Linked DNA regions of Homo sapiens: region 2 is linked to region 1. Evidence: fine-mapped expression QTL. A gene starts in region 1. The other region holds a variant in brackets. All regions are shown on one strand. Distances are from middle to middle. Region 1 holds the start of E2F1 (E2F transcription factor 1). Region 2 overlaps ZNF341 (zinc finger protein 341).

Region 1 (5,369 bases):
TTAAAACTTTAAAAAACAAAAACTGTCACAACCACCACAAACAAAAATAGCCTTAGGGAAAAAAAGGAAAAAAATGAATAGGGCTGGGATCCTGCCGTCAACTTTCTAGTTTCTTAAGAGTTAAGTTTTTGGCCAGGCGCAGTGGCTCACGCCTGTAATCCTGGCACTTTGGGAGGCCGAGGCGGGCAGATCACTTGAGGTCAGGAGTTCAAGACCAGCCTGACCAATATGGTGAAACCTCATCTCTACCAAAAATACAAAAATTAGCCGGGTATGGTGGTGCACGTCTGTAGTCCCAGCTACTCGGGAGGCTGAGGCAGAAGAATCGCTTGAACCCAGGAGGTAGAGGTTGCGGTGAGCCGAGATGGCGCCACTGTACTCCAACCTAGGTGACAGAGCGAGACTTCATCTCAAAAAAAAAAAAAAAAAAAAGAGTTAAGAGTTAAGTTTTCAGCTGGGCATGGTGACTCACACCTGTAATCCCAGCACTTTGAGAGGCTGAGACAGTCAGATTGTCTGAACTCAGGAGTTCAAGACCAGCCTGGGCAACATGGCAAGACCCTCTCTCTACTAAAAATACAAAAATTGGCTGGGCATGGTGGTACACGCCTGTAATCCCAGCTACTCGGGAGGCTGAGGCACAGAATAGCTTGAACTTGGGAGGCAGAGGTTGCAGTGAGCCGCAATCACGCCACTGCACTCCAGCCTGGGTAACAGAATGAGACCCTGTCTCCAAAAAAAAAATAAATAAATAAATAAAAAAGTTAAGTTTTCTACATTAAACATGTATTATAGTTATAATACTTGAGTTTGTGGAAGTGGACAGGCAGGGCCAAGAGGAATGGCTGAATTGCAGAGCCTTGTATACAGAATGCCTGCTGGTATAGAAGCTAAGCCTGTAGCTTATTTCAAGGACTGTGCCAGACAAATGCCAGTGCAGAGAGGCCAAAAGCCAAACCTGTGGACTTTCTGGACTTCAGTTCCAGAATGGTGCCAGCCTCCTGGCCCTTAAGTACACTGGGGGCCAGGGCTCCTTGTCTCTGGGCCTAGTGCCTCCTGGGCATTCACTAACTCAACAACTGTTGAATGAATGGAATGCCCAGGCCAATGAGCCTGCCCCTGACAGGTGGAGTGGAGGGCATTTTTCTTTGCCCCTGTCCCTCCCTTTGATCCTAGAACCCATAATCCTGTTCAGATCTTTGAGGACAAGACCCTCAGGTTGTTAGATTTCCGCAGACCTGAGCCTTCTATAATGCTTGTCACACAGCTGAATGGAAGATGCTTGCCCAGGTCCCAAGTGGTACCCACAGGAACAGGCCCCTGGAGTACAGGAGACAGGCCACCTGGCCCACCCCTGGTACAACCCCCTCCCACCCACTCATTAAGAGGGAGGGCCCCTAAAAGCCCTTCTTGCCCTTTCTTCAACCTGTATCAGCATCCCCAGAAAGCAAGGCATCCCAGAGGTCAACCTCAGAGGAAACGCAGACTGCTCTCCCCACTCAAGAGCAGAATGACATGGGAAGATTCTAACATCTCTAGGCCTCAGCTTCCCAATCTGTAAAAAGGGACTGCTGCTGATGGGGTTAAATGAGTTAATTAAGTAAAGCGCTTGGCACAGAGCCTGGCACACAAGACATCCTCAAAACAATGGTGGCTGCTATTGTTATTATTATTAGCATTGTGGTGATTCCGGAAGGCAGCACTGGGCATGGGGCCAAGGGGGTTGGGGGAGCCTCCTCAGGATGCCTCAGGGACCAGCTGCCACCCACACCCCCATCAGCAGTTAGGCAGCTTCTACCTCCTTGTCCTGAGTCCTGCCTCACCCCTCCCACTTGCTCCAAGTTCCCTGCTGAGACCCCATCCTGCCTGGCCAGACCCCGCCTGCACACCAGAGCCCCACCTTCACCCATAGGCTGCGCCAGTCAAACTGGTCTCCACACCCTGCCCTGTGCCCCACAGTTCCCAGCTCCAGGCTTCTACGCCTCCAATCCCTTCTCCCACTGGAATTCAGCCGCCTCTTCTGGGCCCTCCAGTCTGAATTCGTCTTGAGCTCAGCGATCAGGGAGGGCTTTATTAAAGGATCTCCCTGAGACATTTTCTCTCCTGGCACTGGGGGCCTCCTCTCCAGCTCCCAGAGGCCCAGCCCACCTAGTCCTTCTACAGAGACTCAGGGGTCGGCCTGCCTGATTAATGAGGTTCCATGGCAACCAGGGCCTGGGAGGGTGGAGGGTGGCAGATGGAAGGACAGGCAGAGGGAGGGGATCAGCAGCTGGTCCAGCTGCCCCGCCCCTGCAGAGAAGGCCTCCCAGCCAGGAGGGCTGTCCCCAGAGGCCTGGCCGGCCAGGCCTGCACCTGGCAGTCAGCATCGAGGCAGGAAGGAGGGTCTCCTCAATGGCTCACCAACGGTTAGGCCCCAGGACTTTCCTCCGCCCCGCCTTCACTTCCCCTAGCAGCTGTGCTCACTACCGAGATGCAAATTCTGAGCTGAAGCCAGCAGGCCTCAGTTCAAATCCCAGCCCCACCACCTGCAGCCGTGTGACCAGGGGCAAGTCACTTTCCCTCTCTGGGCCTCAGTTCCTCCTCCGTCAGATGGGCACAGTGACAACACAGCTCACAGCGGGGTTGTGAGTTTTAGCTGGCTTGAAGTCGCCCAAAGGCCTGGCATGCAGTAAACGCCAGTTGAATACACGTGGGCTATTATTATCACTGAGTCCGACGCTGGGGAGGCTCCGGTGAGGAAGCTGAGGCGCAGAGCACAGAGCAGCAAACAGGGACCGGCCCGAGGTCACCCCGCACCCCAGGGCGGGGCCCGGAGGCCCAACCCCGGCTCTGCACCGCCCAGCCTGGGCGCCTCAGTCAACCCCTCCCCCGCCCCCTGCCGCCTCCAGGCCAAACACGGCGCCCTCCCGGGTCTGCGCGGGGGGCACAGGCGGCGCTGTCGGCGCGGCGTCCCTGGGGTCCGTACCGGCGGGCGGCCGAGCGCGGGCCGCGGCGCACTGGGTGTGGGCCGGGGCGCCTGCGGTGTGGCGAAGAGCAGCAGGTCAGGGTCGCAGGGGCCGGCGGCGGGCGCCGCGGGGCCGGTGGGAGCCGGCGGGGCGCTGGCGTCCTGCGCGGCGGAGATGATGACGATCTGCGAGGAGTCGAGCAGCCGCAGCGCGCCGGCCCCGAGCAGGGCCTCCAGCGCCGGCGCGCATGGGCCGCCCGCAGGGGCCCCGGCCAAGGCCATGACGCTCACGGCCCGCGCGGCCCGGGTGACAGGCGGCGGCGGCGGCGCGGGCCCATGGCGGCAGGCCTCGGCGAGGGCTCGATCCCGCTCCGCCCCCGGCCGCCGCTGCCTGCAAAGTCCCGGCCACTTTTACGCGCCAAATCCTTTTTGCCGCGAAAGAGCCACGAGCCGCCGAGCGCCGCCACAATTGGCTGCCCCGGCCGTGACGGGAACAACGGCGGCGGTTCCTATTGGCTTTAACGCGCCGGACCCGGCGGCGAGGGGCGGGATGGGGCGGCGGCGCGGGGCGGTACGGCCAATGGCGGGGCGGGGCGCGCGCAGGCTTTGTCCGGATGGTACCAGGCGCGGTGTGACTCCCCGCCCCCAGCCCGGGCGTCCCCTGCTGGAGGCGTGGGGACACCGGAACATAGGCCCCGCCCCGCCCCGACGCTCCCGCATCCCACTGACCTTTCTATAGTGCAGGTTCAGAACAGAGCCTCTCTTCTGCACGTGACCCTCAACCTGTAGCCCCCAACAGCCTCAGCTTAGATTTCCAGAGACTGTCCCCTCTTCTTTTCAGGATCATCAGTTCCACAGCCCAGCCATCAGCCACCTCTTCCATCCTCAACTTGCCTCACCCATGACATTATCCTAATCCTGCACCCAGCCCTATCCCGCTCACCCAGAGCCCAAGCTGAAGAGCGGTGCCTGGAAATGGCGAGGGGGACGTCGGGCTTTCCTGCAAGTCCCATTTTAGCCAAAATCTCCAACAGCCAACGTATAGCATCTGCTTGAACTCATTCATTCCCTCACTCATTCAACAAACGTTTGGAGAGCTTGCTCTGTGCCCCATCCTCAATTCGTGGCCCTAAGGAGCTCACAGTCCAGTAGACAGGGGAACAGAAAGGTAACAGACGTTTACAATACGATGAAGTGGCGTCTGGGCGCGGTGGCTCACCACCGGAATCCCTGTAATCAGCTGGCGGGGTGGATCGCATGAGCCCAGGAGTTCGAGACCAGCCTGATCAACATGGTGAAGACCCATCTCTACAAAAAATACAAAAATTAGCCAGGCATGGTGGCGTGTGCCCGTAGTCCCAGCTACTTGGGAGGCTGAGGTGGGAGGATTGCTTGAGCCCGAGAAGTCGAGGCTGCAGTGAGCTATGATCATGCCACTGCACACCAGCCTGGGCGACAGAGCGAGATCCTGTCTCTAAAACAAAAAAAGAAAACACATCACTTCTAGGGAGCCCTCCCAAGGATTTACTCACTTCCTCTATTGCCCACTGCTGCCTCTGCTCCAATGCTGACCACACACACTCCTTTTCTCCATCTGCCTCCCCTGCCAATCTAGGAGCTCAGTAGCGACTCCTCCCAACACTGGTCTGGCCCAGAGCAGGCGCTGAGAAAGGTTATGAAAGAAACAGAGGCTAAGCCAGAGGCTGCCTAGACTGTGACAAGGAGACCACGGTTCTGCAAGGGTGGTCCTTAGGCCACTGGCTTCAGAACCACGTGGTCACTTGCTAATTTTGGGCCCACCCTGGCCCTGCCAATTTAAAATCTCTAGGTGCCCAAGAATCTGCATTTTAACAATGCCATGTCCCCTTTCCAGGTGATATTTGTTATTCTTTTTCTTTTTTTTTTTTTGACACTTAGGGAATTAGAAAAGCCAGTATCTTATTTTTTTTTTCCTATTTATTTTATATAGACGAGGTCTCACTATGTTGCCCAGGGTAGTCTCAAACCCCTGGGCTCAAGAGATCCTCCCGCCTCAGCCTCCAGCATAGCTGGTACTCCAGGTGACTGCCACCTCACCAAGCTTCCAGGTTATTTTTATGCATACTCACATTTGAAAGCAAACTGGTGTACCAGCATAATCAAAATGAGTGGTGCAGCCTCAAATCACAGCTCCTGAGGATGCTTCTCACCCTTAGTTTCAAATGGGCACACAGACCTTGCCCTGGCCCCTTCCAGGGTTGCCAGGAGAATGAAAAGCATAAGGAATTGGAAAGTGTTTTACAAACTATGAGGTGGTTTAGGAAATCAGGAGTTGTTTTCCCCTCCAATGAGTAGTTTCTGAAATTACTCATTGCAAATCCTAGAATGTATCATAGCTAGAAGGGACCACAGAGACCACATAAGCCTCTTGCTGTATGGATAGGAA
Region 2 (5,369 bases), 86 kb after region 1:
CCCAAAGGAAGACAAAGCCTGTTCAACAGAGGCCATGGATAGCTATGCCTAATAACTGTCAATGAAAAAAAGAGATACTGAAGTCAGATTGTCAAATTACATACAAATCTGGTTAATGTCCTGCAAGACAACAAAACCTGTGACCTTTGGGGTTATCTTCTCTATCTGACAAAAATCAATTACGTTGGATTAGTTTTTTACAAATTAACAAATTAACATTTAACTGTAGAGTCCTAGTCAATGGAAAGTAGTCAGAAGTAGCCACATCCTGTAGAGAGTGTGATGACTGTGGGCCGGCTATAGGCAGGCTCCTTAGACAGCAGTTCTCAAAGTCCCAGGCCAGCAGCACCAGCATCCCCTGAGGATTTCTCGTTAGTGATGCACATATTCAGACCCACTAAGTCAGATTTCTCAGGGCCAGGGAGGGGGTGAAGGGGTGGTGGTGGGGGGGGGGGCAGTGGGAGGGGTGGCGGGGGCACAGCCCTCAGCAACCTGTAATTCTGAGGCCTGCTCCAGTTTGAGAGCCGGTATTCCAGTATGACATTGAAAGGGTATACACTGTCATCTTTTCACTGTATTTCCAGGTCTTGAATAATTTTTCTAAATATACCTATGCCACACAGAGCCTGAGGGAAGGGTAATAGGGCCATCACGACTGGCTGAGAGGAGGGAACCCTCTAATCAAGTTAAAACAAGGGGCTGGGCACAGTGGCTCATGCCTGTAATCCCATCACTTTGGGAGCCCAAGGCGGGTGGATCACTTGAGGTCAGGAGTTCGAGACCAGCCTGGCCAATGTGGTGAAACCCCGTCTCTACTAAAAATACAAAAATTAGCTGGGCATGGTGGTGTGCACCTGTAATCCCAGCTACTGGGGAGGCTGAGGCAGGAGAATCGCTTGAACCTGTGAAGTGGAGGTTGCAGTGAGCCGAGATTGTACCACTGCACTCCAGCCTGGGCGATAGAGTGCGACTCAGTCTCAAAAATGAATGAATGAATGAATAAAAACCCTGGGATCCAGTAGCAGCAGGGGGGCAGAGGGAGCAGTGGTCAGATCATTTACCATCAGTGTCCAAGGCCAATGCCACAGGCCAGGGGCTGCAGTGGAGGAAGCTCTCCTGCCTCCTGTCACCTGCCCAGCGTCTTCCCTCAAGGTGTACAAGTGTGTGGTCAAAAGCTGTGCCCAGACGTTCCCAAAGCTCGACACATTTCTGGAGCACATCAAGAGCCACCAGGAGGAGCTGAGCTACCGCTGCCACCTCTGCGGCAAGGACTTCCCCTCGCTGTACGACCTGGGCGTGCACCAGTACTCCCACAGCCTCCTGCCACAGCACAGCCCCAAGAAGGACAATGCCGTCTACAAGTAAGTGCCTCCTGCTTCCCTCTCCCTGGGTGGACGGGTGGGTGGGCAGGGAGCCCAGGGCCTGTGGCCTTGGTGGTTCTGACTGCTTAGGACCAGTGAGATATTTGAAAGGAGAAACCGAGGCTCCTGGCTGGGGTCCAGCCTGGCAGAGTGGGTTCTGGGCTTTGGCACTGGTGGAAGAAAGGATGCTGGCTCTCCTTATATCATTCTTATGTCTTGGCAGACATTTTTCCCAAAAAAAAATCCTTAAAAAGAGGAACCTATATTTCCTTGTTCATAGTGGGAAAAGGTTTGAGCATTTTATTCCAAACTAAACAATTATGACAGTATTATTTTGTCTCATAATCTACAAAATTTAGCTTACAGTCAAAGCGGTACACCGGTTCTTAACAATTAAAAAAGAATGGGCAGGGTGTGGCGGCCCACATCTGTAACCCCAGTACTTTGGGAGGCCAAGGCAGAAGGAGGCCAGGAGTTTGAGACCAGCCTGGCAACATAATGAGACCCCATCTCTACAAAATAAAATACATTTTAAAATGAACAGTTGGCTGGGCGTGGTGGCTCACACCTGTAATCCCAGCACTTTGGGAGGCTGAGGCGGGCAGATGATGAGGTCAGGAGATGGAGACCATCCTGGCTAACACGGTGAAACCCCGTCTCTACTAAAAATACAAAAAAAATTAGCCGGGCGTGGTGGTGGGCGCCTGTAGTCCCAGCTACTTGGGAGGCTGAGGCAGGAGAATGACGTGAACCCGGGAGGCAGAGCTTGCAGTGAGCTGAGACCGTGTCACTGCACTCCAGCCTGGGCGACAGAGCAACACTCCGTCTCAAAAAAAATAAAATACAATAAAATGAACGGTAACATGTTTAAAAGCAAAGATCATAAAAATAATATTCATTTGTTTTATAATCTATAAGATCTAGGTTAAAGTTGAAGCTATATGCTGATTCCTATTTTTATTTTATTTTTTTCTTTGAGATGGGGTTTTGCTCTGTTGCCCAGGTTGGAGTCCAGTGGCACCATCACAGCTCACTGCAGCCTCCCCGGGCTCAGGTGATCCTCCCACCTCAGCCACCTGAGTAGCTGGGACTAACAGGCATGTGCCCCACGCCCAGCTAATTTTTGTATTTTTTGTAGAGACGGGGTTTCGCCATGTTGCTCAGGCTGGTCTTGAATTCCTGGACTCAAGTGATCCTCCCACCTTAGCCTCCCAAAATGCTAGGATTACAGGCGTGAGCCACTGTGCCCAGCCTATATGATGATTCTTAGAATGAACAAGGGATGGATCAGGTATGGATTTTATTGGGGTAATTTATTCTGATAATCATTTATATCACTTCAGTCTTCCATTGTGGTCATGAAGAGGGTCCCTTTGGCAGAAATGATGAAAGGTTTCCTCAGTTTTGCAACATGCTTTTTATCCTTAGATCTTCATGTTAAAGCAGGGCACAGTGGCTCACGCCTATAATCCTAGCATTTGGGGAGGCTGAGGTGGGAGGATGGCTTGAGCCCAGGAGTTTGAAACCAGTCTGGGCAACATAGCAAGACCTTGTCTCAACAAAAATAGAAAAATTAGCCAGGTGTGTTGGCACGCACCCGTAGTCCCAGCTACTCAGGAGGCTGAGATGGTAGGATTGCTTGAGCCCAGGAGGTTAAGGCTGCTGTGAGCCATCATCGCGCCACTGCACTCAGCCTGAGCGACAGAGACGCTTGTCTTAAAAAAAAAAAAAAAAAAAAAAAAAGATCTTCACGTCATTCTCTTTGGACCTATTGACCTCTGATC[A/G]TCCTTGTTGAGTTTCTCTGCCTCAGTTGTTTTCTGGTCTGTTTTGCCAGGTCTTCCTTTGTTGATGGTGTTATTTGCAGTTGTGCAACATCACTTTGATGATGTCATGAAATCCCCCATCTGCAGTCATTTTGCTGTACATTTGCCTGCATCATCTGGGAGCACCTGCCTCACAAAACCCATGGGGGTAGATAGTAGCAAAAGGCCAGGAGTGGTGTTTGTGTGGGGCCTCCTTCCAGTTCATTAGCAAATATTTTCCCATTACAGTGGTTTTTGCTTCTCTGTACAAACTTGTACCTGCAGAGATTTGGTGTTTCTGTTAATGAGGCCCCTGTAACTCCTGGGTGAAGCTTCTGGGGTTCAGAGATAAGTAAATACCTTGAGCTTAAAATGCATGGGCTGCTCAGGGTGACTGGTGTGTAAACAAATGCACCCTATCACTTGATAAAATGCTATCATATATGTTTATAAGGTATAGAGATACCACAGGGGAGGCAGGCTAGAGAAGCTGTCCCAAGAGCAGTGACATCTGAACTGAGTTTTGAAGGATGAATAGGAGTTTGCCAGGTAGACAATGGATGGAGTGTGTTCCTATCAGGAGGAACCGCAAGTTTAAAATACAACAGCAAGTGATGTATTAATAGAATGACTGTTATGTGGAGTGGAAGCGGGAGGGAGATGTTTAGATGGGGCCTATGGGAAAAAGTGGGGCCAAGGCATGAAGGGCCACGTAGAAATCACAAGAGCTCTGAGAAGTTGGCAGAGGAGCTAGAACTCAAGAAATGGGGTGTAGGGTAACTTGCCCCCAAGACTCTGGGAAATGGGGCAAGAGAGGCAGGGAAGCTGGGCAAAGCTTTGGCCAGCCAAGGGGCAGAGATTTCTGGCAGTGATGACTTATTCCCGTTTGCACTTGATAAATTTTCTTTGGCTCTTGCCCTTCTGATTTGTGGATTATCTGTGAGTTCCTGTGGCTGTGTGACTCTGGAGTGAGATGCCAAGTAAAGGGAAGGAAGCACCTGCTCTGTGCCAAGCTTTGCCTTTAGTGACATGAATCCCTGCAGCCCTGGGAGGTAGGTGATATTCTCCCCATTTTGAAGATGAAGACACTGAGGTTCAAAGAGAAGTGACCTGCCCACCAGAGTAACAACATCAGCAGAGTTTAGATTCGAACCCTAGTGTGAGATCTTGGAAGCCTCATAGCCCTGGTCTTGGAGTTTGCAGGTTGAAGATTGAGCCCGATGCTGATGACCCTGTGCAGTCCCCTTGCAGGGTCATAGTGCCAGTGGCCCTTTGTAGACATTGGAGCTGTTGTCCTGTCCCAAAAGTAAGGCCCAATGAGCCAGGCCCCCATTTGGATGGCCTGAAGGTGGAATGGTGTCATGGGTAGTGATAAGGGTTCTGGAGCCATTGGCCTGTGCTTAAATCCTGTCTTGACTGCAAATCCAGTGGATGACCTTGGGCAAGGTATTCAGCCACTCTGAGCCTCGGTTTTCTCCTCTGTGAAATGGGGATCACAGTAGTGCCTGCCCTACTGGATTATTTATAAGGATCAAGTAAGACAAGGCTGAGGCTCTTAGACATGGTACCTGGAACATAGTAGGTACTCAATAAATGTTATTGCTACAATTATTATTATTTGTGTTATTTAAGTAGAAGTTTGGCTGCATGCAGTAGAAACCTCAAATAACAGTGACTTATACACCATGAGAGTTGATTCTGTCTCATAGTGACATTTGAGTGGCTGTGGTGGCTTCATCATATCTTTAGAAGTCCAAGCCCTGTCATTCTGGTTTCTGTTCCCTGTCAGCCACATTGCCTTGGCCTGCCTATGTGTACTTTCCCCAAACCTCTCAAATGACTTTTAGTCATGCCACTATATCTTTACTGTATGTTTAATATTTCCTTTTAAAAAATAAGATTTGGCTGGGTGCAGTGGCTCACTCTTGTAATCCCAGCACTTTGGGAGTCCGAGGAGGGCAGATCACTTGAGGTCAGGAGTTTGAGACCAGCCTGGCCAACACAGTGAAACCCTGTCTCTACTAAAAAAAAAAAAAAAAAAAAAAAAATTAGCTGGGTGTGGTGGCACACTCCTGTAGTCCCAGCCACTCCGGAGCCTGAGGCAGGAGAATCGCTCAAACTCGGGAGGTGGAGGTTGCAGTGAGCCAAGATTGTGCCACTGCACTCCATCCAGCCTGGGTGACAGAGAGAGAGACTCCGTCTCAAA

The links.
Region 2: its variant is fine-mapped to the expression of E2F1 in whole blood (TOPMed, PIP above 0.99).

Annotation. Positions count from the first base shown.
Region 1 is chr20:33,683,039-33,688,407 of GRCh38, forward strand. E2F1 (E2F transcription factor 1) reads right to left here and starts at 3,347. Exons shown (of 7, transcript NM_005225.3): 1 at 2,966-3,347. The coding sequence starts at 3,226. RefSeq lists silencers at 2,717-3,076, 3,187-3,686.
Region 2 is chr20:33,768,932-33,774,300 of GRCh38, forward strand. It overlaps ZNF341 (zinc finger protein 341), which reads left to right. Exons shown (of 15, transcript NM_001282933.2): 10 at 1,153-1,361. Among named protein-coding and RNA genes, the nearest start is that of ZNF341-AS1, 39 kb to the right of the region's middle. RefSeq lists an enhancer at 4,581-4,650. The variant A/G (reference allele first, on the strand shown) is at 3,146.